4 linked regions of the Homo sapiens genome follow. The protein of the gene in region 4 interacts with the protein of the main gene of each other region in a biochemical or structural test. Each region holds a gene or a part of one and is shown on either strand. Other genes may lie near its edges. The genes, in order: PLCG1, NCK1, ZAP70 and LCP2.

What was found.
Region 1: the proteins of LCP2 (region 4) and PLCG1 form a complex in vitro, tested with the Homo sapiens proteins (2 studies listed by BioGRID).
Region 2: the proteins of LCP2 (region 4) and NCK1 form a complex in vitro, tested with the Homo sapiens proteins (2 studies listed by BioGRID and IntAct, with this or other methods).
Region 3: of the proteins of LCP2 (region 4) and ZAP70, one has a biochemical effect on the other in vitro, tested with the Homo sapiens proteins (2 studies listed by BioGRID).

The regions. Positions count from the first base shown.
Region 1 is NC_000020.11:41,140,363-41,148,027, reverse strand, and holds part of PLCG1 (1-phosphatidylinositol 4,5-bisphosphate phosphodiesterase gamma-1), read right to left. Parts: intron 1-7,665. UniProt on the Homo sapiens protein: Mediates the production of the second messenger molecules diacylglycerol (DAG) and inositol 1,4,5-trisphosphate (IP3). Plays an important role in the regulation of intracellular signaling cascades.
Region 2 is NC_000003.12:136,864,944-136,872,608, reverse strand, and holds part of NCK1 (SH2/SH3 adapter protein NCK1), read right to left. Parts: intron 1-7,665. UniProt on the Homo sapiens protein: Adapter protein which associates with tyrosine-phosphorylated growth factor receptors, such as KDR and PDGFRB, or their cellular substrates. Maintains low levels of EIF2S1 phosphorylation by promoting its dephosphorylation by PP1.
Region 3 is NC_000002.12:97,729,911-97,737,575, forward strand, and holds part of ZAP70 (tyrosine-protein kinase ZAP-70), read left to right. Parts: intron 1-2,972; coding exon 2,973-3,111; intron 3,112-3,214; coding exon 3,215-3,302; intron 3,303-3,386; coding exon 3,387-3,433; exon of another isoform or gene 3,434-3,633; coding exon 3,634-3,685; exon of another isoform or gene 3,686-4,609; coding exon 4,610-4,802; intron 4,803-5,339; coding exon 5,340-5,546; intron 5,547-7,562; coding exon 7,563-7,665. UniProt on the Homo sapiens protein: Tyrosine kinase that plays an essential role in regulation of the adaptive immune response. Regulates motility, adhesion and cytokine expression of mature T-cells, as well as thymocyte development.
Region 4 is NC_000005.10:170,245,413-170,253,077, forward strand, and holds the end of LCP2 (lymphocyte cytosolic protein 2), read right to left. Parts: intron 7,159-7,665; exon of another isoform or gene 7,100-7,158; coding exon 7,022-7,099; exon of another isoform or gene 6,236-7,021; intron 5,474-6,235; coding exon 5,318-5,473; intron 3,408-5,317; coding exon 3,285-3,407; 3' UTR 821-3,284; downstream 1-820. Other genes in the region: putative uncharacterized protein C5orf58, read left to right, coding at 550-701. UniProt on the Homo sapiens protein: Adapter protein primarily involved in signaling pathways within T-cells, as well as other immune cells such as platelets, mast cells, and natural killer (NK) cells.

The sequences.
Region 1 (7,665 bases), on a different chromosome or scaffold from region 4:
CTGCACTCCCTTTGCGCCATGCCAGCCCAAGCCAAGCCACTCTCCTGTTCCCTTTTTGCTTCCTGGGAAACAGGGCCCCAGTGAGTGATCTAGACTCTGATCTCACTCCAAGGTGCCAGGGATCTCATTCACTCACTGCCTGCCCAGAAAGCCCAGCTTAAATTTTTTTTTTTTTTTAAAGAGACAGAGTCTTGCTCTGTCACCCAGGCTGGAGTGCAATGGCGCGATCTTGGCTCACTGCAACCTCTGCCTCCCGGGTTCAAGCAATTATCCTGCCTCAGCTTCCTGAGTAGCTGGGTTACAGGCGCCTGACACCACGCCTGGTTAATTTTTGTATTTTTAGTAGAGATGGGATTTCACCATCTTAGCCAGGCTGGTCTTGAACTCCTGACCTCGTGATCCCCCTACCTTGGCCTCCCAAAGTGCTGGGATTACAGGCGTGAGCCACCGTGCCCAGCCCAGCTTAAATTCTTTGAACTCACCTCCCCTACTGAGAGAGATGGCTACCTTGGATTTCTTTCTCTGAAGTTGAAGTTGAATAACCTATCGTTTTACCTGCTTAGGACAGCTGCTTGCCCAAACTTTACTAGCACACATGATTGTATGGAGCTTCATGCTTCCGGTGTAGACCAGTTCTCAGGCCAGAACCAGGCCATCCTCTTGTGATCAGTCTGGCAACAGACATTCTGTTCTCACTGGAGGGAATGCTCTGTGTTTCACTGCTGGCCTCAAAAGGCCCTCAGCAAAATCCTTAACAAAGTGACATATGTTACCTTTTCCAACCTCCTTGGTAGATATGCTAAGAACGCCCAAGAAAAGGCCACAGTCCCAGTTAGGATGGACAAGCTAACACAGGCACATTATACTCAATTACTGTTGAAGGTGGAGGAAGTGACTAGGGCAGGAAGAGGGGAGCTGCCTCCAAACAGGTGGTGGACTATCAGGCAGAATAGGGTGACCATAAAGTGGGTCTTCAGTGCCTCAGAGAAGGACCATCACCCCTGCCCCCATCGCTGCCCAACCTCCCAACTGAGGGAATGGAGTTGTATTCCTTAGCTCACCTCCTGCCCCCAAGTAAGCTGAGAAACCTGTGGGACCTATGGCCAACTGGAGCTCTCCTTCACTCCTTCCTAGGGTTAGTCACCCTGTGAACTCAGGCCCACACTCTCTGGGCCTTAGGCTGAAGTCAAGGTGGGGTTGGAATTCTCCCACCACACATCCACACCTACACAGCCAGAACCCAGTGTGGTCAATACCCGACTCCTACCATGGGCAAGGCCAAGCCAAGGACACTATGACCCAAGCCCATGCCCTCAACAATCATTTCCCTCAGAACATTTTAACTCAACCATATCCCCAGGTGTCCAAGAAAACAGGAAGCCAACCCCAAAGTGAACTCCCCACCTGTGCCCAGGAAGAACTAAACACACACAAACAAGTGGCCAAACTCGCCATGGCCCAACTCCTCACCAGTTTGGCCAGCTGTTCACTGTCAGGGCCCAGAACATCAGTAAGACCACCCACTCTCCTCCGTACCCAAGCCTTGCTGCCTTGCGCCCAGGCCCCTCACAGCCTTTGTACAGATGCTTTACCCAACACCTGTGTGCCAGCTGGCAGGTGGAGGGACCCCAGGGGGTAGGATGGGCTGCTACAGGGAGAAAAGCGATTCCATCTTGGCCCTCAGGCCCAGCCTACAGCACTTTAGGCACAGCTGTCTCCTGCCAGCCCTGGGCATTAGCGGTTTTCTGCATGGTCCAGATCACAAGCTTCTCAGGATCAAGGACTGGGTCACCTCGTTTTCTTGCTTCCTAACTCCAGCCTCCTCTGTGCCAGGCCTGGGCTCAGTAAAAAGGGATGCCAGTCTTCTGTAGGAGAACGCCCTGCCCCGTTTACTCTGCATCCTGAGTCTTGCTGAAGCCAGGGCCACCGGCCAACACCAGGAAGGGCCAGGGCCGGAAGGAAGCAGCAGAGCCTATACACAAAGCCTACATGTGGACTATAAAAAGGAGCTCCTCCCTGCCTCCCCCAGGATGGGCCCGGTTCCTAGGAGGTAAAGAGTGGGGAGAAAGCTAGGACTTAAGCCTGGGCACACAGCCACTGCAGCCTCTCAAAAGCTAGCCAAGAACCACCTCAAAAGGAACTAGTCTTGCAAGGAGGGGTGCGAGAATATTAAGGGCTTAGCCAGGAATGCAAGTAGAGACTCTCCAAGTCCCATCTCTTGGGACCATAGCCTCTCTTAAGGCAACCAACTCCACTGTCCCCATTGCTTCTTCCCCAAAACTACAGAATATTCGGGGACCAACCCCTTCTCACACTTCTCTACTCTCTAGGGGCTGAAAACACCCCCTAGAAGTCTCTAGGCACCCATATTCCCCACTTTCTCTGGAGACTTCAGCACACCCAGCAAAGCTCTGGGAAGCAAGTGTGATGAGTGGCAGAAGTAGCGAGAAACTCAAACTCTGGGCAGCAGGAGGATACTGTGGCCACAACAGAGTAGGCTCAGCAGGCAGCTCAAGTAGGGCCATGGGTTGGTGGGGAAGGCGGGGGCAGCTATGGCAGAGATGACAATTAGGCAAGGGCCACACAAATATACCTATTTCAAAGATGTCAGCCAAGACAGTCTCTTGACCCACACAGGCAGCACTCTACTCTACCACAACAGCAAAGCCACACTCACCACATGCATCCTAAGTCATAGAAATTAATTCCTTCTAAACCTCCATACTCCAAATCCCTCTCCAGCCTAGTTTGCCCAGGGTGTTCAGGTTCTGTACTAGAGGCCTCACCCAGAACCACTGAGGCCACTCTCCAGGGACGGTGGTGTAGGTTAGCACACATAGCAAACAGGGGAAATTAACCTTCCTTGTTGCCAGCCATTGATATGTGGGCATCATTTGTTATCACAGCACACCCTCACCTACCCTGACAGAGCAGCCTCTTGCCTTATTTCCTTCATAGAACTCACCAAATCCTATAAGAATTTTATCTGTCTGCCTATTTATCTCCTTTCTGGCTGTATCTACCCTAACCTTATGTCCACTACTGGTCTCCACAGTGCTTGGCACAGTTAGCAAATGCCAGAGTCTAAAGCCAGGGAAGCACAAGTCGTCTCTCACTTATTCAATGAGCCACTGAGGCCCAAGAAAGCTAGTTTTTTGTTTTTTTTTAAGGAGAGTAGGTATGGTGAGATGGAACACAAACCACGCTAGAGATCTACTGCCACCATGAACAAGTCAGAGGCTGGAGTAATCACATCCAGCTCAGTGTGCCCAACACACAGTAGCAAGGCCCACAACAAATGTATGACAAATTAAAGAGCACATGAATGAATGCATGCTCTTGAGTTGTCATAGAGAATCCTGGAAAAGCCCTTCTCAGGATATTTGGGGCATGGAGCCCCAGGTTCCCATGTTCTGTAGAAGCTTAGGCGGAAGTGTCACCACAAACCAGAAAGTCAAGAGGGTGAGGCTCTTCTGTGTCCCACCCCCAATCAGCGGCTACATTCACCCCCATGTAGGAGTGTGGGAAAGGTCTGGGTGGGCCAAGCATCTCGACACCGGTGTTGTGGCAAGGATGAGTGCAGGACGGGTTTTGAAATTGAGGCAATGAGTCCAGCTTGTCCACAGATGGAAGTCTAGGCTGGTCAAACACATGTGGCCAGAGGGAAGAAAAACAAAACAAAACAAAATAACCCTCTGTTCCTATAGAACGGTCCATCCTATTATCATTTTCCCCAGAATGGGAGAATAAACTGAATACTATAGCAGGAATCTGAAATCCTAGGATCTGCCATGAACTTGCTATGTGACCTTACCCTTAGGGCTTGGTTTTCTCCTCTGTAAGAGAGGGATAGTAACTCCTGCCCTCCATGGATTCATGGAGCTGCTGTGAAGTTCAAACAATACAACAGGTGAGAAAATGTTCCATGAACTCCCAATATGCTATTCCAATTCCAGAGTTTTTTGATGCCCCAGTCCTCTGTGTACAGACTCAGGGAAGGAACACAGAAAGCAAGTAGGAAACAGACTCCTAGCCCAGGTTGTTGGAGCAGCCACTTGTGGCCGAGCTTAGTGGTGGAAAAGATTGGAGCTCTGTGGTTAACAAAGGTGAGAGTAAAGGAAATGAATACTGTTAAGTGGCCACTAAGTGACAAATGTTGTGCTGGGTAGTTTTCACATAAAATCTCTTACTCTTATATATAATCTCCCTTATTATTAATATACAGCTCTGTGAGGAGAAATTACTTTTACAGCTAAAGATCAATTTCAGACAGGGAAAAGTAATCTGCCCAAGGTCACAGTAAGAGCTGAGACCTGAACCCAAATCTGACCAGCTCTAGCCACAAATCTCCAGGCACTTCAGCTCAATTACCAGCAAGGTGGGACTATCTGGTCAATGGTAGCCTGAAGCCACTCCTCACCCGTGGCTCCACCTTGAGTCTTGCCACCTGTAAACATGCTGCTCTCAGAGATTCCCTCCAAGGACGCACTGTTCCCATGCTCCTCTCAACAAGGCACTCTACAAGGGGCACCAGAACATTCCCATCCTCCTATCCCACACCCATCTCTCCTAGGACTCTCCTCACAGTCTGCAGTGACTTCTCTAGTTCTAACAAAGCAAGTGGAAAGGGGGAAAAATCAGTCTCCTAATATCACACCTTTGCAATCTCAGGCCTCACTCCCTTCCTCCAACTTATCATCTGTGGTCTCCTTGAAGCCACATCCCACAGGAAAAGGCACAGAGTAAGAAGAGATGCTGTGAGTTAACGGAGACTGACACAGAACAGTGACAGCAGAGGCAGGCCCTACCACATCGAGGCTGTGGCATTAGAGCACTTCCTCAAAGACAAGATCTCTCCAGATAGCGTCCTGGGCTAGGCACTTAGAAATAGGACAATATCATACCTTCACTCTACAGAAGGGGTTACCACCCAAAGCAGCTGCTTCCAGCCAACTGCCCTGTCTCCCTGCAAAACCAGCAGTGGGAAAGAGCCCTGACAATAGAGGGACTGCTGAGAGCTGCAAGAGAGGATGGGCGGGCCTCCTTGCCTCTGAATCAAAGGGCTTGGTGGCCAGGCACCAGCCCCTTAGGACAGCAGGTGCATTCGAACTCCTCCCCACCAGGTCCTCCTGAGAACTTAATCCTCATCTCTGTCCTGTCAGGGATCCTACGTAGTAAGCACTTACACTGTGCCACACTCCATGCTAAGCACTTTATACAGGTGCTAAGCACTTTATACAGGTTCTCATCAAATCCTCACAAAAACCTTATAAAATAAATGCCATTTAATACTATCCTTTTTACAGATAAGCAGCCCAGAGAGGTAGTCATATGCTTTAAGGTCACAGAGCAAGTAAGCTGCACAACAGGATTTTAATTCAAGCAGAGTCTAGGGCCCAAATGCTTAACTACTAAGCTCTGTCTCACCCCTCAAGACCCAGCCCTTCTCCCATCTACCACCATGGCATCCCCACCCTGCCTCAGCAAGAAGGTCTTGTCTGGGCCCTCAGCAGCTCTCTCCTGCAAACTGTGCAAACCGTAGGAGCTCACTGGCCTCCCTCCCCAACACCTGCCTGACAAACCACTGCCACTGTGGTCTCCCAGGCAGAGGCAAGTCAGTCCCACAACAGCCTCCGCTGACTCCCGTCGCCTCCAGGACTGAGTGTAATCTGCTGGACATGGCACACTAGGGCTATAGCTGTCTCCAACCAGTCCCAGCTTCCTCTCTACCACACCATATCTGTTCCCTACCCCTGCACAGAGTGATTCCCAGTTCCTTAGCCTCGGCACAGACAGGTGCCTCAGTAATTCAAGGCCTACCTCAAAGGTCACCTCTCCTTTAATGCCTTCCTGGCAGAGCTCCTCACAGTTCTTGGTAGAGGCCTTTATATTATGGTATGTAACACACAGGGTTATAATCATATGCCTCTACATCTGTCTTTTCCAAGAGTTCATCAATGGCACAAACCATGTCTCAATAAACTTTTGAATCCTTGGTGCCTAGCACTGGGCAAATGGGGAGGTATAATAATACTTATTGCAAATATTAATAAATGTGCCTCATTCCAAGAAGCTACCCAGAGCAAAGCTGGTAGCCAAGATCTCTAAACTCCAACTGAATCCTGTGCATCTGTGTACACACACACACAAGAGTCTGGAGAGAAGCTGGAGGTGTTGTGGGTCCCAGGACTGGGTGTGCTCAGCTCCTCCAGTTATCTGTGAAGCAGGCCCTTTTCCTAGGTTCACAGGAAACAGAGGATCCCAGCTGGGCGGGGGGGCCTGGAAACCCACACATCGGGGCAAGCCTGGGGTGCTGAGGAAACACTAAAAGGTCTGACTTCCCTTGGAAAAAACTACATCAGACAGGAAATACACAGGCAGGGATGGCTAGCTCTGGAGATCCGGACATGTGCTCCTGCCCCTCTCCCACTGGGAGTAACAGCCAGTACAAAGAAAACCCTTGATGACACCGGCCTGGGCCTTGCCCTCTCCCGTGCTGTGGGCCTAGCCCTCGGAGCAGGCCTCCTGGTGTGGTCTGCTCCCCAGCCACAGGGGTCAAGCCCCAGCCAGCTGGTTCCACTACTACCTCCCTTCTGAGCCCGCCTGCCTCATCAAGGCAGTTAGCTGTTTTCTTCCGCCACCCTCACCCTCTTCATCAAAGGTACTGCTCACAATTGTCATTGCCTGTTTTCATTTCCCTAAAAGCAAGCACCCATACTCCTTCACCTCAGAGGGCCTGGCATCTAGAAAAGTATCTAGTGAAGGATCAGCCAAAGACAGAAGCCTGGGGCCTCAGAAGTCCCCATGGACATGCTCAGCCAGTATTCAGAGTACCTCCACAGTGTCTACACCAGTGTTTACTGGGCCCACAAAGACCCTCAAATGGACAACCTCATTAAACACGAGTCTGAACCATCTCAACTCAGAAAACACCAGAAGAAAAAGTGTGGAGCCAGAGCCTAGAGAGGCTGAGGCTGTCTTGGGATACAAAAGCCAAAGTGGTCTTTGCCCTGTAATGCATGGTCTGAGCACAAAGGTGTCTCACAGAGGAGCCACGTGGACCACAGGGAACATGGGCTTGGGGTTGCTAGTCAGCCTCTGACTAGTGAGCTGGCCCCAGCTGAGGCCCTGGCACACACTGACACAACACCTTGGGCACAAACGATTCTCCATTTCCATTTGCTCATCTGTAAAATGGGACGAAAGGTCTCAATAGCACTCAGCTGGAACTCTACATAACTGCATTTTATTCATTTATGTCAGTATCTGCAACATAAAAGGCCAAACACCAACCTGGTTCCTGTCATACCACCAGGACAACCAAACTTGTCAACACCTAAGCACTTCCCCACCCCGCTTTTGAGCCAAATGACCACCCTAGAAATCAGGAGGTGTCAGCTCCATTTCACAACTGCTGACAAGAGAGGGCACAGAGTCAGGGCAGAAGAAGGTCTTACATATCAGTATGAGTGCTCCTTAAACCACACTGTCTCTCCCTCAGGTCTACCAACACCCTGAAGGTAGCACAGTGTCTCTCTCTTAGGCCAGGCTTCAGGCACTGCTGGTACCCTGGTAGGGTCAGCAGGAAAGGCCAGATACCTGAGGTGCTTGGGCAAGAGTCCAGGTGGCAGAAAACCCGGCTGGCAGTCCAACCTCCTCAGAGGC
Region 2 (7,665 bases), on a different chromosome or scaffold from region 4:
ATTTTCCCCATTGTCTTGGGGATTCATATTCAGCTCCTCATTACCTATGCAAATTTCTGTAGCCAGCTTGAATTTCTCCTCAGAAAAGGGGATTTTCTTTTCTATCACGCTGTCAAGCTGCAAATTTTCCAAACTTATGCTCTGCCTCCCTTGTAAAACTGAATGCCTTTAACAGCACCCAAGTCACTTCTTGAATGCTTTGCTGCTTAGAAATTTTTTCTACCAGACACCCTAAATCATCTCTCCCAAGTTCAAAGTTCCACAGATCTCTAGGGCAGGGGCAAAATGTTGCCAGTTTCTTTGCTAAAACATAACAAGAGTCACCTTTGCTCCAGTTCCCAACAAGTTCCCCATCTCCATCTGAAACCACCTCAGCCTGGACTTTATGGTCCATATCGCAATCAGCATTTTGGGCAAAGTCATTCAACAAGTCTAGAAAGTTCCAAACTTTCCCACATTTTCCTGTCCTCTTCTGATCCCTTCAAACTGTTCCAACCTCTGCCTGTTACCCAGTTCCAAAGTTGCTTCCACATTTTCGGGTATCTTTTCAGGAGCACTCTACTCTACTGGTACCAATTTACTGTATTAATCTGTTTTCATGCTGCTGATAAAGACATACCTGAGACTGGGCAATTTACAAAATAAAGAGGTTTAATGGGCTTACAGTTCCACATGGCAGGAGAGGCCTCACAATCATGGCACAAGGTTAAAGGCATGTCTTCTCACATGGCGGCAGATAAGAGAAGAGAGTTTGTGCAGGGAAACTCCCGTTTTTAAAACCATCAGATCCCACAAGACCTATTCACTATCACAAGAACAGCACGAGAAAGGCCCACCCCCATGGTTCAATTACCTCCCACCAGGTTCTGCCAACCACACGTGGGAATTGTGGGAGTAACAATTCAAGATGAGATTTGAGTGGGGACACAGCCAAACCATATCAGTTACATTTATATAAAGTTCAAAAACAGGCAAAAATAGTTTATGGCGATAGAGGACAGAATAGTGATTACCTTTGAGAGGGAAAGAGACACTGATTGGAGGGGGCGCAAGAGAGCCTTTTCGAACACTAAAAATGTTCCACATCTGGATTTGAGTGATGACTACACAGATATCTACAAATATAAACATTCTATACATTTAAATTTGTGCAGTTTTCAATAAACATTTAAAGATACTTTCTCTAAACAAATTTTTAATTTTGTTTTTTTTAGACAGCGTCTCGCTCTGTCCCCCAAGCTAGAGTACAGTGGCGCGATCATAGCTCACTGCAGCCTCGACCTCTTGGACTCAAGCAATCCTCCCGCCAGCCTTGCAAGTAGCTAGGACTACAGACGCTCACAGCCAAACCTGGCTAATTTTTTTTTTTTACTTTTGTAAAGGCCGGCTCTTGCTATATTGCCCAGGCTGATCTCTAACTCCTACCCTCAAGGCATCCTCCCACCTCAGCCTCCCAAAGTGCAGGATTACAAGCATAAGCCACCATGCCCAGACTAAACAATTTTTTAAAAAAAAATTAGTAAGCTTTTTAGTTGGATCCACAACAGGAATTAATCAAAAGGAAAAAAAATGTAAAGCCTTATACACAAAGATCTTTATTGCAGAATTTACAATAGCAAAACACATACACACACCTGGAAATAACATTTAATAAATGAATGCCATGCCAACCCTGGATTTCTCTGGTGTGAGAGAAATTAATATTTGGCATCTGTCTGATACTAGTAGCCAAACTTAATGCTGATTAACCTAAAGGAGCCATCTGCCCTGAGGAAGAGCATGATCACAGACACCAAAGCAAAAAAGGGCTAAGCTATTCAAGGCTGAAAGAGGAAAGAGACAAAAGCAAGAGATGAAGTGAGACGTAGACAAAAGCCAAATCATGCAAGACCTCACAGGCCTTTTTTTTTTTTTTTTTTTTAAAGACTATAGCTAAGAAATGAAAAGAAAAAATAAAGTAACTGATTTCCTTGGGCAGCAGAATTACTGGGAGACAGGGGTTGTACACTAAATATTCTAAATGTTTCTAAAAATGAAAATATATTATTCAAGAGCATGTAGTACTTGCAAATGATCAAGCATTTCCAAAAAAAACTGCCCAGCCCTATTAAATTTATAAAATATTTCTGCGATACAGCTGGAATAATTACAAGGTACACAACATATTACAGTATTTGTTGTATCTATTATTTGAATTGATCTACACACTAACATATGAAAATACGTGCTAAAATTTTTGGAAGAAAAGGATGAATTTTTTTTTTTTTGAGATTAAGTCTCTCCTTGTCACCCAGGCTGGAGTGCAGTGGCATGATCTCGGCTCACTGCAACCTCTGGCTCCTGGGTTCAAATGATTCTCCTGCAGCAGCCTCCCAAGTAGCTGGGATTACAGGCATGCACCACCACGCCCAGCTAAATTTTGTATTATTAGTAGAGACAGGGTTTCACCATGTTGGCCAGGCTGGTCTCGAACTCCTGACCTCAAGCGATCCACCTGCCTCGGCCTCCCAATGGGATTACAGGCATGAGCCACTGCGCTGGGCCAGGATGATTCTTTTAAAAAAAAAAAAAAAAAAAAAACTTTTGAGAAACATCCATTCTTTTAAATATTTCCACATATTTTCACTGCTTGTTTTATTCAACTGGCTGTTTGAACAAAAGCAAAAATTATCCATACCATATTCATGTCCAATTCAGCAATCATTACTTACAATTTCAGGAATAGAAACAAGAGAATCAGTGTTTTAACAGGTTTTTTTAACTGATAATTTAAACAAATAGAAAAAGCAACTATTAACAACCAAAAAATAAATGAAAAACAGACCAAGAGAATAAGCATTCCTTTCCCTCCACAGAGAGATTTTACCTGATAGTCTTCTATGCTGTCTTACAGCATTCAACTATTGTTACGTACACATAAGAAAAATACGAAAGCAACCATACATGGTTTCTGTTACAGAAACTTTAGAGTTAAGAGGAAAAATAAACATGAAGAACAAACATATAAAAGCACTCTAACTCACCAAATGGAACAAATGATTTTTCTTTCTTTCTTTTTTTTCTTTTGAGACAATCTCGCTCTGTCACCCAGGCTAAAGTGCAGTGGCGGGATCTCACAACCCCGCAACCCCTGCCTCCCGGGTTTAAGTGATTCTCCTGTCTCAACCTCTTGAGTAGCTGAGATTACAGGCATTCGCCATCACACTCAGCTAATTTTTGTATTTAGTAGAGACAGGGTTTCACCATGTTGGCCAAGCTGGTCTCGAACTCCTGGGATCAAGTTATCCGCCCACCTCAGCCTCCCAAAGCGCTGGGATTACAGGAGTGAGCCATCAGGCCTAGCGGAACAAATAAAATTTTTTTTTTTTTGAGACAGAGTCTTGCTCTGTTACCCAGGCCGGAGTGGAATGGCATGATCTTGGCTCACTGTAACCTCTGCCTCTGGGGTTCAAGCCATTCTCCTGCCTCTGCCTCCCGGGTAGCTGGGACTACAGGCATGCACCACCACAGTGGGCTCATTTTTTTATATCTTTAGTAGAGATGGGGTTTCACCATGCCGGCCAGGCTGGTCTCAAACTCCTGGACTCAGGGGCTCCGCATGCCTCAGCCTCCCAAAGTGCTGGGATTACAGACGTGAGCCACCGCGCCCGGCCTCAACAAGATATTTTGTCTTGTCTTGCTCAACAAGAAGTGATGGTTCCTGACAGATGAACAAGAGGACAAAAAGTAGCAAAATGTGAAGGTGTTACAGTTCTAACACTCAAAAGAGAAAAAGAACATTACAGCTAGATCACTGCATTTAGTTATATGATAAGCCCTCCAGGTTTCCTCTAAATCATTACATTGTTCTGTATCCACATTCAAGGCCTCCAAAGATTAATTGGCATTATCAAGAGATTCGAAAAGACAAACTAAATTGCAGCAGTAAAACCTGTAAGAGATTCATTTTTTAGCAGATGATAGAATTCAATGGTAAACACTGGCCAGGTGCGGTGGCTCATCCCTGTAATCCCAGCACTTTGGGAGGCCAAAGCAGGCTGATTAACTGAAGTTAGGAGTTGGAGATCAGCCTGGCCAACATGGTGAAACCCTGTCTCTGCTAAAAATACAAAAATTAGCCAGGCATGGTGGCAGGCACCTGTAATTCCAGCTACTTAGGAGGCTGAGGCAGGAGAATCCCTTGAACCTGGGATGCAGAGGGTACAGTGATCCGAGATTGCCCCACTGCACTCCATCCTGAGTGACAGAGCAGGACTCCGTCTCAAGAAAAAAAAAACTCAATGGTAAACATGACAATATTATTTTTGTTAATGGTGTTAATACACCTAACAAGTATAGGGGAAAGAAACTGTATATAGACTTTATATCATTGTTTAAATAATTTACAATGTAAGGCTGGGCATGGTGGCTCATGCCTGTAATTCCAGAACTTTGGGAAGCCAAGGTGAGCGGATCACCTGAGGTCAGGAGTTTGAGACCAGCCTGGCCAACATGGTGAAACCCATCTCTACTAAAAATACAAAATTAGCCAGGTGTGGTGGCAGGTGCCTGTGATCCCAGCTCCTCAGGAGGCTGAGGCAAGAGAATTGCTTGAACCCGAGAGGCGGAGGTTGCAGTGAGCCGAGATCATGCTGCTGCACTCCAGCCAGGGCAAAAACTGCGAAACTCTGTCTCAAAAAAAAAAAAATTTACAATGTAAATATGAAGGTTCCCCTGCCCTGAAGTTTTCAATCTATGAGAAGGCATAAATACACAAAATGCAAAATAATGTGAGGCAAATAAGGCAAAATTACAAGAGATGAGAAGTAGTATGGTTTCATAAACACACAGAACTTGCGTCAGAAGATCAAGGGTTGAGTCTTTGTTCTGCCCCCATCACTAAATGTTTGAATTTTGGTGCATCTAGTCTATTTGTATTTCAGTTTCCTTATCTGTAAAACACAAGGTTGGATTCCAACATTCCAGCAATAATGCTCTATAATTCTATGATTCAAGTCCACACAACATTAAAAACCAAGGGAATACTAAAATAATAAGGGGTATGGGTTTAAAGGAAAGCAACAGACCAGGCACAGTGGCTCACCCCTATAATCCCAGCACGTTGAGAAGCCAAGGTGGGAGGATCGTTTGAGGCCAGGAATTCAAAACCAGTCTGAACAACACAGTGAGACCCTATCTCTACAAAAAAAAAAAAAAAAAAAAATTAGCCAGACATTGATGCACACCTGTAATCCTGGCCTTTGGGAGGTTCAAGTTACAATGAGGAGCTGTGATCAGGCCACTGTACTCCAGCCTGAGCAACAGAGCGAGATCCTGTCAAAAAAGAAAGAAGAAAGAAAGAAAGAGAGAGAGAGACAGACGGACGGACAGACGGATGGATGGACGGAAGGAAGGAAGGAAGGAAGGGAAAAGAAAGAAAAGAAAGAAAGAAGGAAGGAAGGAAGGAAGGAAGGAAGGAAGGAAGGAAGGAAGGAAGGAAAGAAAGAAACAAAGAAAGAAAGAAAGAAAGAAAGAAAGAAAGAAAGAAAGAAAGAAAGAAAGAAAGAAAGAAAGAAAGAAAAGCAAGCAACATAGGGAACAGGAAAAACATTTGGAAGACTGCACCAAAGGACCAAAAGCGAAAATTCAACAAATTTTACTTCATTTGCTACTTGGTAATTTAGGAGAAAAAAAAAATTTTAAAGACTAGGCAAACTGGACGGGCACAGTGGCTCACGCCTGTAATCCCAACACTTTGGGAAGCCGACGCATGTGGATCACCTGAGGTCGGGAGTTCAAGACCAGCCTGGCCAACATGGTGAAACCCCATCTCTACTAAAAATACAAAATTAGCCAGGCGTGGTGGCATGCACCTGTAATCCTAGCTACTCGGAAGACTGACACAGGAGAATCACTTGAACCAAGGAGACGGAGGTTGCAGTGAGCCAAGATGGTGCCACTGCACTCCAGCCTGGGTGACAGAGTGAGACGCCTCAAAGAAAAAAAAAAAGAAGAAAGAAAGAGGCCAGGCACAGTGGCTCACACCTGTAATCCCAGCACTTTGGCAGGCTGAGATGTGTAGATCACCTGAAGTGAGGAGTTTAAGACTGGCCTGACCAACACGGAGAAACCCCGTCTCTACTAAAAATACAAAATTAGCCAGGCATGGTGGCGCATGCCTGTAGTCCCAGCTACTAGGGAGGCTGAGGTAGGAGAATCGCTTGAACCCGGGAGGCAGAGGTTACGGGGAGCCGAGATCGCACCATTGCACTCCAGCCTGGGCAACAGAGCGAGACTCTGTCTCAAAAAAAAAAAAAGAAAGAAAGAAAGAAAAAGGAATGATACGAAGGTACAAAAATACAAAGAGTAAATAAGAATCAGAGATTGGTTTGGTTAGAGTGGACAGCTCCTATAAAGAAATAGTGCTGGCACTGATTAAAAAAAAAGAAAGAAATAGTGCTGGCCCCAGAAAAACAGGTTTGAGCAGACTGTTATTAGGCTATGAATTCTGAACTATACTCTGAAGATAACAGAGAGTTATCACTGGTTTCCGAAAAGTGAAGGATGTGTTTGAAGCATAATTCTAAGATTTAGGAAGACATACTAAGTAGAGAGAAAAATCAAGCAAAAAACCCAATTAAAGGCTAGTGAGTAGTTCAAAGATAAAAATGGCTGGCAAAAATCAGCCAATATTGTTACACGCATAGAGATAAAACCAAAGTTTGTGTCTGGGTAATTGAAAGCATGGTAATGTCACCAAAACAAAGTCAGCATATGGAATCAGTTTTGAAGGGAAGACTATAAATTCTATCTTCATTAGAGTTTAAGGTGAGGATCAGCCAGACATAAAGTTTCCTTAAATCTTTAAATGTCATATTTAGCCTTGTTGTCTTCCTAACATCACAGTATTTATAGAGAATTTGTTAACTGCTCAGTGATTTCAAAAGTTCCCTTCAATTTTACTTATTAATGAAATAATCATTTAATTTTCTAGTGCAGATAAAGAACATTTGGTATTTTTCTATATTATAAAGGTAAATTCTAAAAATTATTAAACCATGATTTTAAAAATGAACTGTATCTGTATTCATTAAGTCAAGTCTTCCTGACAAGTGATTTATAATAATCACATCAAATATACCTTCAGCTTTGAAAAACACATGGTGAAAAAGTAAAATAAGACAAAGTAAAAGTACAAAGCAATGAAAATGTAAAACTCTAGAAAATTTTTGAAAAATGAATATAGGCCAGCCACGGTGGCGCACACCTGTAATCTCAGCACTTTGGGAGGCGGAGGTGGGCAGATTGCTTGAGGTCAGGAGTTCGAGACCAGCCTTGCCAACATGGTGAAACTCCGTCTCTACTAAAAATACAGGCCGGGCGTGGTGGCTCATGCCTGTAATCCCAGCACTTTGGGAGGCCGAGGCAGGTGGATCACGAGGTCAGGAGTTCAAGACCAGCCTGGCCAAGATGGTGAAACCCTGCCTCTACTAAAAATACAAAAATTAGTCAGGCGTGGTGGCAGGCGCCTGTAATCCCAGCTACTGGGGAGGCTGAGGCAGAGAATTGCTTGAACCCGGCAGGCAGAGGTTGCAGTGAGCCAAGATCCCGCCACTGCACTCCAGCCTGGGCAACAGAGTGAGACTCCGTCTCAAAAAAAAAAACAAACAAAAGAAAAAGAAAAAT
Region 3 (7,665 bases), on a different chromosome or scaffold from region 4:
TGAAATGTAGTGGCTTAAAACAATGGTCATTTACAGCCAAGTGTGATGGCTCACACCTGTAATCCCAGCACTTTGGGAAGCTGAGGCAGGCGGATCGTCTAATGTCGGGAGTTTGAGACCAGCCTGGCCAACATGGTGAAACCCTGTCTCTACTAAAAATACAAAAATTAGCTGGGCATGATGGTGGGTGCCTGTAATCCCAGCTACTTGGGAGGCTGAGGCAAGAGAATCACTTGAACCCAGGAGGTGGAGGTTGCAGTGAGCCAAGGTTGCACCATTGTACTCCAGCCTGGGCAACAAGAGCAAAACTCTGTCCCAAACAAACAAACAAACACCGATCATTTATTCACTCTTGTTTTGCTTGGCAATTTGGCTGGTTGCTTGGTAATTTGGGCTGAGTTCAGCTGGGTGCCTCTTCTGCTGGGTTTTTGAGCTTACTCATGTGGCCACAGCCAGCTGGAAGATTGGCTGGAGCTGGATGGTCTCTGGGATGGCCTCACTCACATGAATGGCTATTGGCCACTCATGTAGGGTGCCTTGGTTCTCCTCCATGGGCCTTCTCTAGCAGGCTAGCTTGGACTCATTCCCATGGTATTTGGAGAGCTGCCAGGAAAAGCAAGAGAGGGCAGGCCAACCTCAATGTTCAACCATTTTTCAAGCCTCTGCTTGTGTCATGTTTGCTAATGTCCTGTTAGCAAGGCACATGGTCAAGCCCTGATTCAGAAGACAGAGGAGGAGGCCCCACCTATTGATGGGAAGAGCTCCCTAATATTGTGGCTGTTTTCCCCCAGTATTCCACATGGAAGTTTAAATAAACAAATAAGGAGGAAATTATTAGTTCTAGAAGAAAGAATGAAAGAGACAGACAGACTTGGTGGCTCACGCCTGTAATCCCAGCACTTTGGGAGGCCGAGGCAGGTGGATCACGAGGTCAGAAGATTGAGACCATCCTATCTAACACAGTGAAACCCCATCTCTACTAAAAATACAAAAAATTAGCTGGGCGTGGTGGTGTGCACCTGCAGTCCCAGCTACTTGGGAGGCTGAGGCAGGAGAATGGCATGGACCCAGGAGGCAGAGCTTGCAGTGAGCCGAGATCACGCCACTGCACTCCAGCCCGGGCTGTGGAGCGAGACTCGGTCTCAAAAAAAAAAAAAAAAAAAAAGAGACAGAGGAGGGGAGATGGGAGGTTTGCTGTTTGCTGGTGAGTGGCTTGGCATGGAGTCTCTGTTGTCAGTTTAAAACTTCAGGTTGTGACCCTTAGGAGGTGTTTTCACTTCTCACAGTCCCTGGAGACCATCACCTCCAGGCCAGCCTGCCACCTGCCTCTGACTTCCACAGCTCTGAGACCCCCAGGGCCAATAGCCCTCCCTCCTCACTGGAAAGCTGCACTTAACAGGAGCTTGTGCCAGTGACTCAAAATAGAAATGTTTTGTGGGAGATGTTGACTGGTGTCACTGCGGGGTTTCACGTGACGGCGCTGCATCTGCTGTCCCAGCCTACTGTCTCTGTGGGATGTTTGTTTCCTAATTTGTGGTGGGTTCTCTTCCTTGCCCTTTTGTGTGCCCTCATTGCCCCCGCCCTGATTTCCCATCTCTCCATGTTATCTCCAGACTGTTGTGGGCTAGCCTGGGAACTGCCCCACCCTTCACTGCACTGTACTTCGGGGAACGTGCTGTCCAGGAATGGAGAGGATGGTCACAGCTGCACCTCTCTCCCTCACTCAGGGGACATTTCCTAAGGAAGGGCCTTATTGCAAGGTGGGCCCATGGCTGCCTTGCTCACTGCCATATCCCTGCGCTGAGAACAGTGCCTGGCCTGTCAGTAAAGACTTGTCCAGTGAATGAACATCCACAGGCAGGGCCAGGCCTGGTCTGAGAATTTGCACCTTGGAGGGTGCAGCTCGCAGGCCATCACAAGGGCTCTTCTGTAGTGCAGTGCAATCCCTGAGATCAGGAGTCGGCTGCTTCCGGCCTCCACAGCTTCCACGGGGCCAGCTGCCCTCCCTCCTCACTGTAAAGCTACACTTGACCCTGCAATAGAGGCTTGTGCCAGTGACCCCAGACAAAACTGTTGTGTGGGGGATGCTGACTGGTGTCACTGTGGGGCTTCATGCGAGGGTGCCGGTGTCTGACACTAAGTTGGTCTGTGTTGAGGGGGGATGTGTGTACTCAGGGCTGGAGCGGATGGGGGGACAGTTTCTTACCCCACAAATGCACCACCTTTGAGGGGCTCAATTCCCATCATAGACATGGAAGATTTATATATTTATATTGACAAAATTCCAGCAGAAGGCAATCGAGGGTCTCATTCTAGGAAAGGTCCATCTATTATGGAACTGGTCAGTCTCGTGATGAGAAAGTGACTTGTTTTGATTTGCACAGGGGTGCCCTGTAAGCTTGTCATGGAGCTGCGCCTACCTGTGTGGGTCTGTGTGGAAAAGGCTTTCTCTCCCCAGGAGAATGGTGCTAGGTCTACCTGTTGAAGGCTCTGGGTCTGTTGTAGAAGGCCAAGTGCCCCCCATGGTTGGCTGACTGTATGGCCGAGTGTACCCCCAATGAGTGCCTGTGGATGACTATCTCTCTGTGGATGGCAAGTGTCTGGCCGTGGATGGCCAACTGTTCAGCCATGGGGGACCAGGTGTTCCCCAGTGGATGGGTGTCCCCTCCTCCGTGGCTGGGTGTCCACCGTGGGGGGTCAGGTATTCCCCGTGAATGGCCATCTGTTGGCTCTTGGAGAACAGTGCATTTTCCTGGGAACACAGCCATGGCCCCTCCACCGCCCTCTGCCACTTGGCCCATCATCAGCAGATCTGGAGGTGATGGGGGCCTGGCCTGGCTTCCCCAGTCCCTGCAGCTTCTCTGCAAGGCTCTGAGGTGTGGAGCCCATAGGGTGTGTTGCGGGGGAACCGGGGCACAGCAGGAGGCCCCCAGGTGGCTCTAGGGGTTACATCCCCTCCCTTCCCCTGCCAGGCTGAGGCCGCGGAAGGAGCAGGGCACATACGCCCTGTCCCTCATCTATGGGAAGACGGTGTACCACTACCTCATCAGCCAAGACAAGGCGGGCAAGTACTGCATTCCCGAGGGCACCAAGTTTGACACGCTCTGGCAGGTAGGCTGCCCGTGCAACTTGTTCTGGGAGATGCCGTGCTCAGATGGGGTGCCGGGCTCTGGGGAGGAGAGGAGCCTCTCTGCTAGCTGCCTGCTCCCTGCAGCTGGTGGAGTATCTGAAGCTGAAGGCGGACGGGCTCATCTACTGCCTGAAGGAGGCCTGCCCCAACAGCAGTGCCAGCAACGCCTCAGGTGACGGCAGCAGGCGGGCGGGCGGTGGGCGGGGGCGGCAGGAGACCTGGCCCCCAGCCCTCACTGTCCCTTCTGCTCCCCCAGGGGCTGCTGCTCCCACACTCCCAGCCCACCCATCCACGTTGACTCATGTGAGTTGGGGGCACCTGGAGTGTGGCCTTGGGGATGGAGCTGGGGAGTGGCTGTGGGGGAGGCTGGGATGGAGGCTGGGGTGCCTGTGGAGCGGAAGAAGCTCTCTCTCCACTGTCTCTGGGAGTCCTCAGTGGATATAGGTCTCATGAGAGGGGCTGGACGTCCCCAGCTCAGGCCTTGCTGACCCTGTGGCCTTTAGCCTCAGAGACGAATCGACACCCTCAACTCAGATGGATACACCCCTGAGCCAGGTGAGCGGGCAGAGGTGGGGACGCGGGTTGGGGCTCATGCTGAGCCGAGATCAGGGTCGCTGTCAGGGCTGTGGGGTTTCACGGGGGGCGCTGTGGGCCGGGCCAGGCTGTGGCAGTTGGCTTGGTTAACACCTGTGCACACATGTGCCCACACCCATCACACCTGCCTGTGCACATGTACGTCCCAGTGTGTACTGACGTGCAGGGAGCACACTTGGCCTTGCCTGAGGCTCCCCAGACACACGTTTGTTGAGTACCTACTATGTGTCAGTCACGTTCCGAGGTCACTGTGTGTATGAGCCACCGAACCCTCCTGACATGCCTTATGAAGTGGCTATGGTGATTAACCTCACTTTACAGATGAGAGAGGGAGGGGTCTGTCTATGGGGATGTGAGGCAGTGGTAGAGGCGGGATGTGAACCCACGATGGGCCCCAGAGCTCACATTCCTAAAATGGTCTGCTGCGGGTGCTCCTGTTTCTCATGGGTGGGCCCAGACCTGAACATGTGTATGCACAGAGAAGACACATAGTTACATGTGCACCTAGAGGCTCGCTTTTGGAGGCCTCGTAAATGTGGCTGTGTGCTGCATACGCAGACAGGGACGGGCCCGGCCATAGGCGTACACGTACGAATGCACACACATGCACACCCCAGCTGGCACAGTAACGGTGCCACGTGGATACCAATGCACACGCCCCTAGAGTCCACCCTCATGTGGCTTCATGGGGCACCCACAGCTGTGGCCAGGAGTGTATGCCAGTGTGTGCGTGTGGATGTGCAGGAACACGCATGGGCACCCACCTGCTTGTGCATGCTCCAGGGACGGCACCCTTGTCTGGGGCAGGTGCTTGTGGGGGCTGAGGCTGCCTTGCTCCCCACACCCCTGCCCCTGACCTGGGAGTGTACCGCTGTGTGTGCCCAGCACGCATAACGTCCCCAGACAAACCGCGGCCGATGCCCATGGACACGAGCGTGTATGAGAGCCCCTACAGCGACCCAGAGGAGCTCAAGGACAAGAAGCTCTTCCTGAAGCGCGATAACCTCCTCATAGCTGACATTGAACTTGGCTGCGGCAACTTTGGCTCAGTGCGCCAGGGCGTGTACCGCATGCGCAAGTATGGCCGCCCCTGCCGTGGTGGGAGCACCGCCGCCTGGGGCAGAGGGGAGTGGCTTCACCGGGCTGTGGGACGGGAGCCGGGATGTCTGTCTCACAGCAGTTTGCCTGGGAAACAGACTCTGGGGCAGGACGTTGCACGCTGGAGGATTCCCTGAGAGAGCTCGGGACACCTGACGGGGGTGGGATGGGGCCTGGGCAGGGGGAGGCTGTGGAGCTGAAGTTCCCAACCCAGGGGAGCTGCAGTGGGGTCCCCGATCCCTGAGTCCACTGGCCCCTGACAGGCTGCCCCTGGGGAGGGTGTCACTTTGGATTCTTTTTGGCGATGGGCTGTTCCCGGTGAGCGATCCGGCTGTGAGCCGTCCTCAGCAGACGCTCCAGGCTGCAGGGACATTGAGCGCCTTGGTCCCAGCCTGGGTGGCGACTACAGTTGTCTACCACACAACTCAAGGGAGAAGAGAGATGGGTGGGTGGGGGTGTGGGGCCGAGCAGGGCCGGTGCCCCTCGCCCACGTGCCTCCCGTGGCCGGGTCGGGCAGGAAGCAGATCGACGTGGCCATCAAGGTGCTGAAGCAGGGCACGGAGAAGGCAGACACGGAAGAGATGATGCGCGAGGCGCAGATCATGCACCAGCTGGACAACCCCTACATCGTGCGGCTCATTGGCGTCTGCCAGGCCGAGGCCCTCATGCTGGTCATGGAGATGGCTGGGGGCGGGCCGCTGCACAAGTTCCTGGTCGGCAAGAGGTGAGCACCGGGTGGGCCCGGCCATCGGGTGGGTGGGGCCGGGGCCCATCCTGGGCATGGTGGACATGCACCCGCGTGCATGCGTGTGTGGGAAGCCGGGGCACTTCCACACCATCGTGGACACACTCTCAGCCTGCACACCCACACCCATACCCATGCCTGCAAAGCAGAGCTAACCCTCAGTCCACCATTGCACCAGTGCGGTAATAACAGTGTCTACCTCCAGGGCCTTTGCGAGGATCGAATGAGTCGGCACCTATAAAGGGCACTGCTAGGGCCGGGTGCGGTGGCTCATGCCTGTAATTCCAGCACTTTGGGAGGCCAAGGCGGGTGGATCATGAGGTCAAGAGATCCAGACCATCCTGGCCAACATGGTGAAACCCCGTCCTTACTAAAAATACAAAAGATTAGCTGGGCGTGGTGGTGGGCGCCTCCCAGCTACTCAGGAGGCTGAGGCAGGAGAATCGCTTGAACCCACGAGGCGGAGCTTGCAGTGAGCCGAGATTGTGCCACTGCACTCCAGCCTGGGGACAGAGCGAAACTCCATCTCAAAAAAATAAATAAATAAAAATAAATAAAGGGCACTGCTAGTAAGAGCTTTGTACACATCAGCTGCTCCCCAGACTCCCTGGGCCAAATTCATGGCCCCTGGGAAAGTGCCCATTGCCAGTTATCTGGAACCTGCCCTTTGTTTACGTGCTGCGTGGTTTTCTATTTTTAATTTTTTTTTTTTTAAAGAAACAAAAACGAAGATGTGACAGAGATCACTTGTGGCCTGTAAAGGCTAAAATCCTTACTATCCGGCCCTTTACTGAAAAGTTTTGCAGTTTCATTTGTGGTTCCTCATCCCCAAACTCTTACCCTCACAGACACAAGTTCTGCACTCCCCAAGGCACGTTTTTGCTGATCTGTGCCCTCTGGCTGGTGCACACACCTTCCCAGTGTGCCCCTGGCTCCCACATTCAGTCATTTGACAGGTGTTTATTGGACAGTTTCTCAGTGACAGGAACTGTTAGTAGCACTTGGGATTCATTAGCGAATAAACAAGGCAGAGATCCATGCTCTGTATTCTGGTTGGAGAAGAGAGACAGTAAGTAACAATCCTGATGAAATCTAGAGCATGTGGGAAGATAGTGTGGTGGGCACAAGCCTGCCGCAGCTCCAGGGGGTTGGGAGTGTTGGGGTGCGAGGTGCAGTGAGCAGGGAGGTTTGAACAAACTGAGGGAGGCCGCCATGCCCAGACGTGGGGAAGGGCATTCCAGGCAAAGGGCACCGCCTGTGCAGAGGCCCTGAGGTGGTCCCGTGCCTCGTGTGGTGCGGGCAGGGAGGGGATGAGCAGACCGTGCCAGGCCTTGCGGGCTGCCAGGAGGACTTGGAGTTTTACCCTGAGTTGGGTGGGAGCTAGGGGGTGCTGTGAGCAGAGGAGGGGGAGGACCTGACTCAGGGGCAGAGAGGACAAGACAGTGGGAGACAGGAGGGAGCGAGGGCCTGGGCGGAGCTGACTATTCCTGCCTGGGGGTCCAGGTGAGTGATGCTGCGGCTGCTTCCCGGTGGCAGAGGCAGAGATGAGGAGTGCGGTGGATTCTGGAGAGATTCTGACACCAGAACTGCCAGGGTTTGCTGATGGATTGGGTGTGAGAGAAAGAGGAGCTGCTGGAGAGGACAGTGGAGGAGCCATATGTGTGTGCACATGGGGATGGGGACAATCAGGCCACATTATCTTTGAGATGCCTGTGAGACCTCAGCACGTCGAGGGTGCAGGCATAGGTCTAGACTTGGGAGTCGTAGCGTGTGGGTGATCCCTAAAGCCTTGAGACTGGATGAAGGCAGGAGTTTTGCCTGTTTTGTTCACTGCTGTGTCCCCAGCCCCACGCCTGGCACACAGCAGGTGCTCAATAAGCGTTTTTGAACACATGGTCACCTGGCTCATGCCCAGCTGGGTCAGAGAAGCATGCTTTGCCCCTGGGAACTTGGCTAGTCTTCTCCCAGCTGACCCCGCCTTCCCCGCCACCCCAGGGAGGAGATCCCTGTGAGCAATGTGGCCGAGCTGCTGCACCAGGTGTCCATGGGGATGAAGTACCTGGAGGAGAAGAACTTTGTGCACCGTGACCTGGCGGCC
Region 4 (7,665 bases):
GCAATCAGCGAGACTCCGTGGGCGTAGGACCTTCCAAGCCAGGTGCGGGATATAATCTCGTGGTGCGCCGTTTTTTAAGCCGGTCTGAAAAGCGCAATATTCAGGTGGGAGTGACCCGATTTTCCAGGTGCGTCCGTCACCCCTTTCTTTGACTCGGAAAGGGAACTCCCTGACCCCTTGCACTTCCCAAGTGAGGCAATGCCTCGCCCTGCTTCGGCTCGCACACCGTGCGCGCACCCACTGACCTGCGCCCACTGTCTGGCACTCCCTAGTGAGATGAACCCGGTACCTCAGATGGAAATGCAGAAATCACCTGTCTTCTGCGTCGCTCACGCTGGGAGCTGTAGACCGGAGCTGTTCCTATTCAGCCATCTTGGCTCCTCGAGAGCATAAATCTTATTTTAAGTCAGAATGGGACACACTTAAGTTGTGGTTTGATCACTAATCACTTGGAAATTAGGAATTAGGAAGAAATAGCTACTTAAAGCAATAATAGTTTTTTATGACATATGTGCTACAATATAATATCTCCTGTTTTGTTTTGCACAGAGCTCTCCCAGTTATTGCTTTGTGACCTTATCCTACATTTTAATCATCCCATCAAGACTGAGAACTTAGCAGAAGCAGAAAGAAACAACCCCCTCTTTGAAGAGTCTAAAATATCAGATGTATCCCTTGTTTCTAACAGTTTTTCTATCTGATTTCTTATTTGTTATGAGTTTCTGTTTTATTGTTGAACTAACAAATATTTGGGAGAGTTGAGTTTACTAATTTGTATATATATAATTTAAAACAAAATAAAAATAATGTAAACAAGCAGTTCATGTTCTTGAAGGCTGTTTAATGTTTTGAAGAATGGCTTAACTTACGTCACTAATGGCAAGTGTATGACATAGGAAATTGGCCATGGGTCACTGCTTATCCTTTAGCTTATGCTTGAATTTGGCTCAGGTTGAAAGAGAGCTACTAAATTATTAATTGATGGAATGAGTTTTTATTAATCAGAACTCTCCTGGTAGTGAACGCCAAGCACAACTCAACCAGCTGAAGCATTTATTGAGTCATGTGACTTGGAAGCACATAGTTGGAATAGATTTCAGGGATCCCACTAATTTGTCCATACTTTTACTGTGTTTTTGTGTGTTGGCCTCGTTGTCTTCTATTGTAGACTGGTTCTTCCAGATAATTGGTAAATGGGAGTAGTTGCAGGGCAGCAGGCAGCTCCAAGTGTACAGCATTGCCTTTGGGGACCCCAGATAAAAGAGAGATCTTGTCTCAGGCTTCATGTTTAACATTCCAGAGAGTGACCCTGATTGACCCAGCTTTAGTAAGATGTTTATCACTGAGCAGGGTTCTGAGCAACTGTGACTGATGCACCTGGGGTCATATAGAAGGTCTGTGGCCAAAAGAGGCAAGGCCCAGCCAAAAGGAGTTGTCGGTGCTTGAACAGAGAGAGAATGCTAGTCATGAAAACATTAGCTTCCCAACATTGATTTCAGTCATAGCCATGGAACAGAACATCTTAATCCTGATGGCACTTTCCACTAATAGACTTAAAATGAGCTTTGGTTTGTTTTATAAACATGATTCGCTACCAAATAGTTGCTTTGAAATCTATCAGGTCCTTCATTTTAGATATTTTTGAATTGTAAAGATAGAATACGGCAAAGCAAGACAAGTGGAGCTTACTCGATACTAGAACCTATGGTGTATGCTATCCTTACTACCTTGTACCTAGCTCACTTGTTTAACACAGAAGAGCCACTAAGTAAATACTTGCTGAATAGCCCGTTGTGTAGACGTGTAAATGAATGCAGGGTTTTCAGCCTTAAACTCCCAAGTTTTGGACCCTAAACTGAGAACTTCTGGTTGTTAAGGATGAGATTTTGTGAAACACCATTTTTATCATCAGTTAAAAGTCTCTACCTTCTGCATACTCCTTATTTTAACATATCATCAGTTTTAAAATGGTGACTTCTTAGATTCCTTCCAATACCCCTTTTATTAGCTCATGAAAATGAAGCTGCAAGATACTCTTTTCCATTTCGAAAACTTGTAGATTAAGCAGAGACGCCAAAAATTGTTGCTAATAAAAGTTGTGCAATAACAACCAAGGTCCCAAAGGGAAAAACTTGAAGAACAACTGATTGTCACTATTTGGCTGAATACCAGTTTTTTAATCTGGCTGAATGCCTATATTTTTTGTTAAGTGATATTTGTAAACTGGAGGAAAGAGTTTAATTACCTCAAAGCACTTATACAGCCTGTTTGGGAAGGATGAGGAGAAGGGACTTTATGGCAGAGCTGTCAGGGGGATAACAAGAGACAGAAGAGCCATATCTAATAGGAAAGTCTGATCACATTTAATCTAAAGTGTTGCTCCCTCGTCTTCCCAGGAAGCCTTTGGTAAAATCTATATCCCTGGACAATGCTTTTGGGGTTGGGAGAAGGTTGGTGGGGGGCTGTGATGGTTGGTGTGGGTGTGGAGATGTGAAGAAATGCCAACTTAACCCCAGATGTGTTCATTAAACCTAGACCCACGATACACCAAAGTCTCATCCCTAAATTTAAAATGTTTTCTTTTGGTATTTGTAGTTTAAATTTTCTTTAAGACAAAAATATAACAGTATGGACTAAAAGTCAATAAAGTTGTTTTAGGAAACCAAAAAAGTAAAGCAAAAGACTATTTTAATCCCAGAAGTTATCTCAACATGCATTTGTCTTTTCATAAAAAAATTACGTAAAAATGCCCCCAGGAAAAAATACTAAATAAGAGTGAAATTATATTTTTGAAGCCTCTTAAATTATTGCTGCTGAGAAAACGAGGTTTAGTGATTTTCAAATTACATGTATAAAACTAATGAATGCCTCTGACTGACAGAGGTTTGGCTGTAAAAAACAAATCAGTTTTATGTGACACCAATAACTATTACTGTTTCAGTGTTTTAAAACTTGCCCCAAATTGTTTCTGTAGCTGTGTAAACTACTGTATTTTGAAATGGGCATTAAATAATCTTTTAAAAAATGAATTATTACAGTGCACTACTAGACTTCAAGTGTGAACATGACTCATGCACTTTACAAACATTGAAGAAGAATAAATAAATTATGGGATAGTTGACAGTCTTCATTTCAAACACTGTTTTTAAAGGAAAGGATAAAACCCTTGTGTTCATGGGGAGGGGTTCAGTTCAGTCCTAAGTGTTTGTCCATTGACCAAGGCTGATTGATCTCGTGTTGGCAACAGAGGCAGGAGGACGGTTCATTTGCTCGGCTATAACTTGCTATGGGTACCCTGCAGCATGCGTTAATGTGCACTGGTATCTGGAACCTCGGTTTTTCCCATCAATGAGCAGAAGTGGCATTTTCCTGAAGTAGTCAATAATATCTGACACAGACAGAAAGTCCTGAAAGAGTCAAGATAGGGAGATGAGTCAACATTGGAATGAAAAGCAGGAACTTCACTTTCAGTTTTTTTATCTGCATAATATATGCTGCCTCTTCAAGTGATGAGGATTGTGGGGGGAAAAAATGTAAATGTGGCAATTAGTTTAATGATTTCTGCTATAGAACTTTGAAAAAATTCCTCATAAACATCCAACAAACCATAGATAAAGATAAAATATGGGCCGGGTGCAGTAATTCACCCCTGTAATCCCAGCACTTTGGGAGGCTAAGGCCGGTGGATCACCTGAGGTCAGGAGTTTGAGACCAGCTTGACCAACATGGTGAAACCCTGTCTCTACTAGAAAATAGAAAAATATTAGCTGGGCGTGCTGGTGTGCGCCTGTAATCCCAGCTGCTTGGGAGGCTGAGGCAGGAGAATTGCTTGAACCTGGGAGGCAGAGGTTGCAGTGAGCCGAGATTGCGCCATTGCCGCACTCCAGCCTGGGTAACAAGAAGGAAACTCCATCTCAAAAAAAAATAGATAAAATATGTGCATGCGTGTGTATATATATATATATATATCTACATATCTATATATATATATATGTAATTTGAAATGCATATATTTTTAACTTCATATGAAGGGGTCATTTAAATAGTCACTATTACAATATTCTTGCCTCGGGTTGCTCTGTTTTTGGTTTTGGTTTTGGTTTCTGCATCTCTATTTCACCCCCAGTCATTAATAGTGTTAGGAAACATAAGGACTCAGGAGGTCAGACACGGTTCATGGTGTCTAGAGGTGGGATCTGCAGCATGGCACAGGAGTTCCTTCATGATCTCTCTGCTGTGTCCTCACTGCCACCTTCACACTCATAAAGGCTCAGCAACCAATATTTGCAGCCATAGCCTGGATCGCCCCAGCCTTGATTGCTTGCTAGAGAGGGAAAAGCCTAACTCATTTTTCTAGATGTGGGTCACAACTCACCTAGGAACCCTAACAGGATAATGCACTTCCTTTAAGACTAATCTGCTAGGTGCCTCCCTCCATGGGAGCTGCAATGAGTGGTTGGTCTGCACTTGTGTGTTTCCACACTGGACCAAGATAAATCTTGAAGGGCAAATACCTCTGCTCCTATAGGGTCTGTGCAGCTCTATCCACTGCCAACCAGCGATTCAAACATTTGATCACAAGCATGCATTTTTTTTCTATTCATTAACATTATCATAACAGAAGTATGTGAAGCAGAAGTTATGGGTAAGCTGTTTCTCATTCTGGACATGTTTGATTCAGCTGGTCCTCCTCTTGGAACTTTGAACTTAGAGTATGTTTGGGGCGTTACCTTCAGTTGTTAGTTTCCTTTGCGAAAAACTAGCCCTGAGGGTTTCTTTCCATCCGTTCTGATTAGCACTCAAAAAGTGACTGGCATGAGAATCTAAACCTTGGCCTAACAGAGAATTTCTTTGGCGATCTGGCCATCCTCACAGAGCCAAACCTCCATTTTGTTAAGAAATGAGCCAAGTATTTGAATAATCACCCCAGCAAATATTCTAATTTTTCCCCTTTTCCAGGTGGTGTCAACTTAAAATGCAGCCTACGTTAAAATTATGCCACAGAGGTGAATAATAGTGGGAACTTTCCTTTGACACCATCTAAATAGATTTTTTTAAGTTAACATAGTTTTTCTTGATTTTGAAAATTATACATGTGATTATTTGAAAGAAAAGATATACAAGAAAGAATCCTATGGCAGAAGTAACCATTGTAAAGATTTTGCTTTATTTCTCTTCCAATAAATGAAGGGCTTCACTCATGTGATTTAATCCTAAATTTGCCATACAGCACGGACTCTCAAAGATCGCTCCATGAAGGCATGCAGAGTGGCATAAATAAAGACTTTGGGAAAATGTCGAAATTTGAAATCCTTACCTCTTTCCCTCGGAGTCCAGTTCCCAACAAGTAAACTTGACTTTCCTTCTGATAACGGATCTGGATGTTGTAAACTTTATCTTTGTACAACACCATGAGGACATATGGATTGGTTGTTGTTTTTTTAGAGCTGTCTCTGACCAGAAATGTGCCATCCTAAAAAGACAAATTCCTGTTATTATGGGAGCAGTAAAAGTCAATATTTTTGTTGCTTGTAAGAGTAGTAGACAAGCCTCTAGGGATCTGACAAACATGTCAGTTGCACTTTGCAGCTTCTTGAGTGCAAAACCTGTCATTCAACGAACATTCAGTTCTCCAAACAGCTACATATCCCATGTGTCATGAGTTATTTTGTTATTAAGAAAGGCAACAGAGATTGTATCAAAGAAATTTCCAAGTCAATCTCGTTAAAGCCTCCTGATAAAAACGGAATCTTTTGTTCAGTAATAAATAATGGGTGGTTGAGTGGATAAAAGGCCAGGAGAAATAAAATACTTTATTGGTTAACTCAAGATATATCTTCCTAGTATTCCTGTGAGTTAATTCCCTAAACTTTCTTTTCCACATCCAAAGTCAGAAAACATCCACATGCCATGAAATTCACCCTTCTTAAAACCCTGTGATCTCTAGATAGTCTTTCCTTCATCAGACCCTTGAGCAAAATTGAATGCAGATGTTCTCTTTTCTTTTCTTTTTTCTGATATTTGCTAAACTACTGTTTTGATTGTCCTGTACTTTAAATTTCCATTCAATAAATTATTGCTACATAATATTAATACTGTAAAGATCTAATATTAAAATAGAATTAATTGGTAAGGACTCCTTTAAACTACTCCCTTCTCCTCATACCAAATCAGGATAGCTTTAAATAGCCATGAGTTGGCAATAATGACTTTCCTTTGTTCCTTTTATTGCAAGTTAATTGAGCCTGTCAGAACATCTCTGCTAAACAAACATACTTCTGGACCAGTGATTCACAGTCTTGGCTTCAAATTAGAATTACCTGGGAAGTTTGAAGACTCCCAGAGCTGACACAGCACCCCCAGAATAATTAGAATCTCAAGGTGAGACCCAGGAATCGGGATTTTTCAAAAGTTCTCCGGGTGATCTAAATGTGCAACTACTACTGAGAACTACTGGTGTGGAGTTTAAGTGTGAAAGATGAAAGATTTTTGCTTTCCCATTTCTGATAAATAAATCTAAGGTAAAGTTTCGGCACTGGCTACGGGAAATATGTTTAAGACTTTATGATATTAAAGGACTAGCTAGAAACGTCTAGGGCAAAAAGCAAAAAGTTGCTGCCATCTCTTTAATATTGGTCCTTTCACATCAACATGGATGGCACGTCTGTGTTAAGAGGAAGATAGAACTGGTACGATGTTGGAACTTTGAAAGAGAGTCTCCTTCTGACACCATGTGATTCCTATGACAAGACAGACTCTTTCATTAATAAAATCTCCTAAGATGCTGCCAACCAAATGACTGCCTTGAGATTCTTCTGCCAGCCTAATGATTCCCGAGCCTAGGAATCCCTGCTATGGGTGCTGGTAGTTGTGAAGCTGGCACTAATGGGTCTCCTAGGTATTACAGAAAGCAACAGCACCTAGCAGAATTCCTAGCCTGTAATTGGTACTCAGGACAGGTCAGTTCCCTTCTCTGCCATTAATATTTACAACTATGTTAAAATAAACTATAGCACAATACCTGGTTTATCTTTCTAAGAGCAGCTTCTGCCTCTGGTCGGGTAATATAAGAAACGTACCACTCTTCATTTAATGAATTCTGAAAATGTAAATTTTTAGAAACTGAATAAATTTTACAGTTACAGATGTAAGTGAAAAGAAAAGCCTCTGAGTAATCATTTCCATAAATCAACACCTCAATTCCAGGAGGTCTGAAACATTTGTTTTCTTAATTTGCATTCAGAGTCATTTAGCTGGGGCTAAATAGAAGATATTTTGTGCGAACTGCTTTTTATCATGACACTGGTTGCAAAAATGCCTGTGAATAAGAGTTCCTTACAGTATGGAACCTCTTCAGGAAAGATACAGATACAATAATTTCTTCAGTTTAGCATAATAACCTGCTTGATTAAAAAAATGGGTTATTGAGCAGTTAAGTGACGAATCAAGGTCATAAACATAAAAAACAGGATTATTTTTCTTGCTGTTTAATGCAAAACACATGTTTGCCATTGAAAGCGTCTGAAAGAACGCCAAGGGAAAAGAACATATTGTTCATCTGGATCTTCTCCTTTAACTTTTTTTTCAAATAAATAAAATAAAACAAAGGGAAGATAAAAGTACAGAAGAACATTCAATGGGAGTTTCTGGTGATTCTTTTACCAG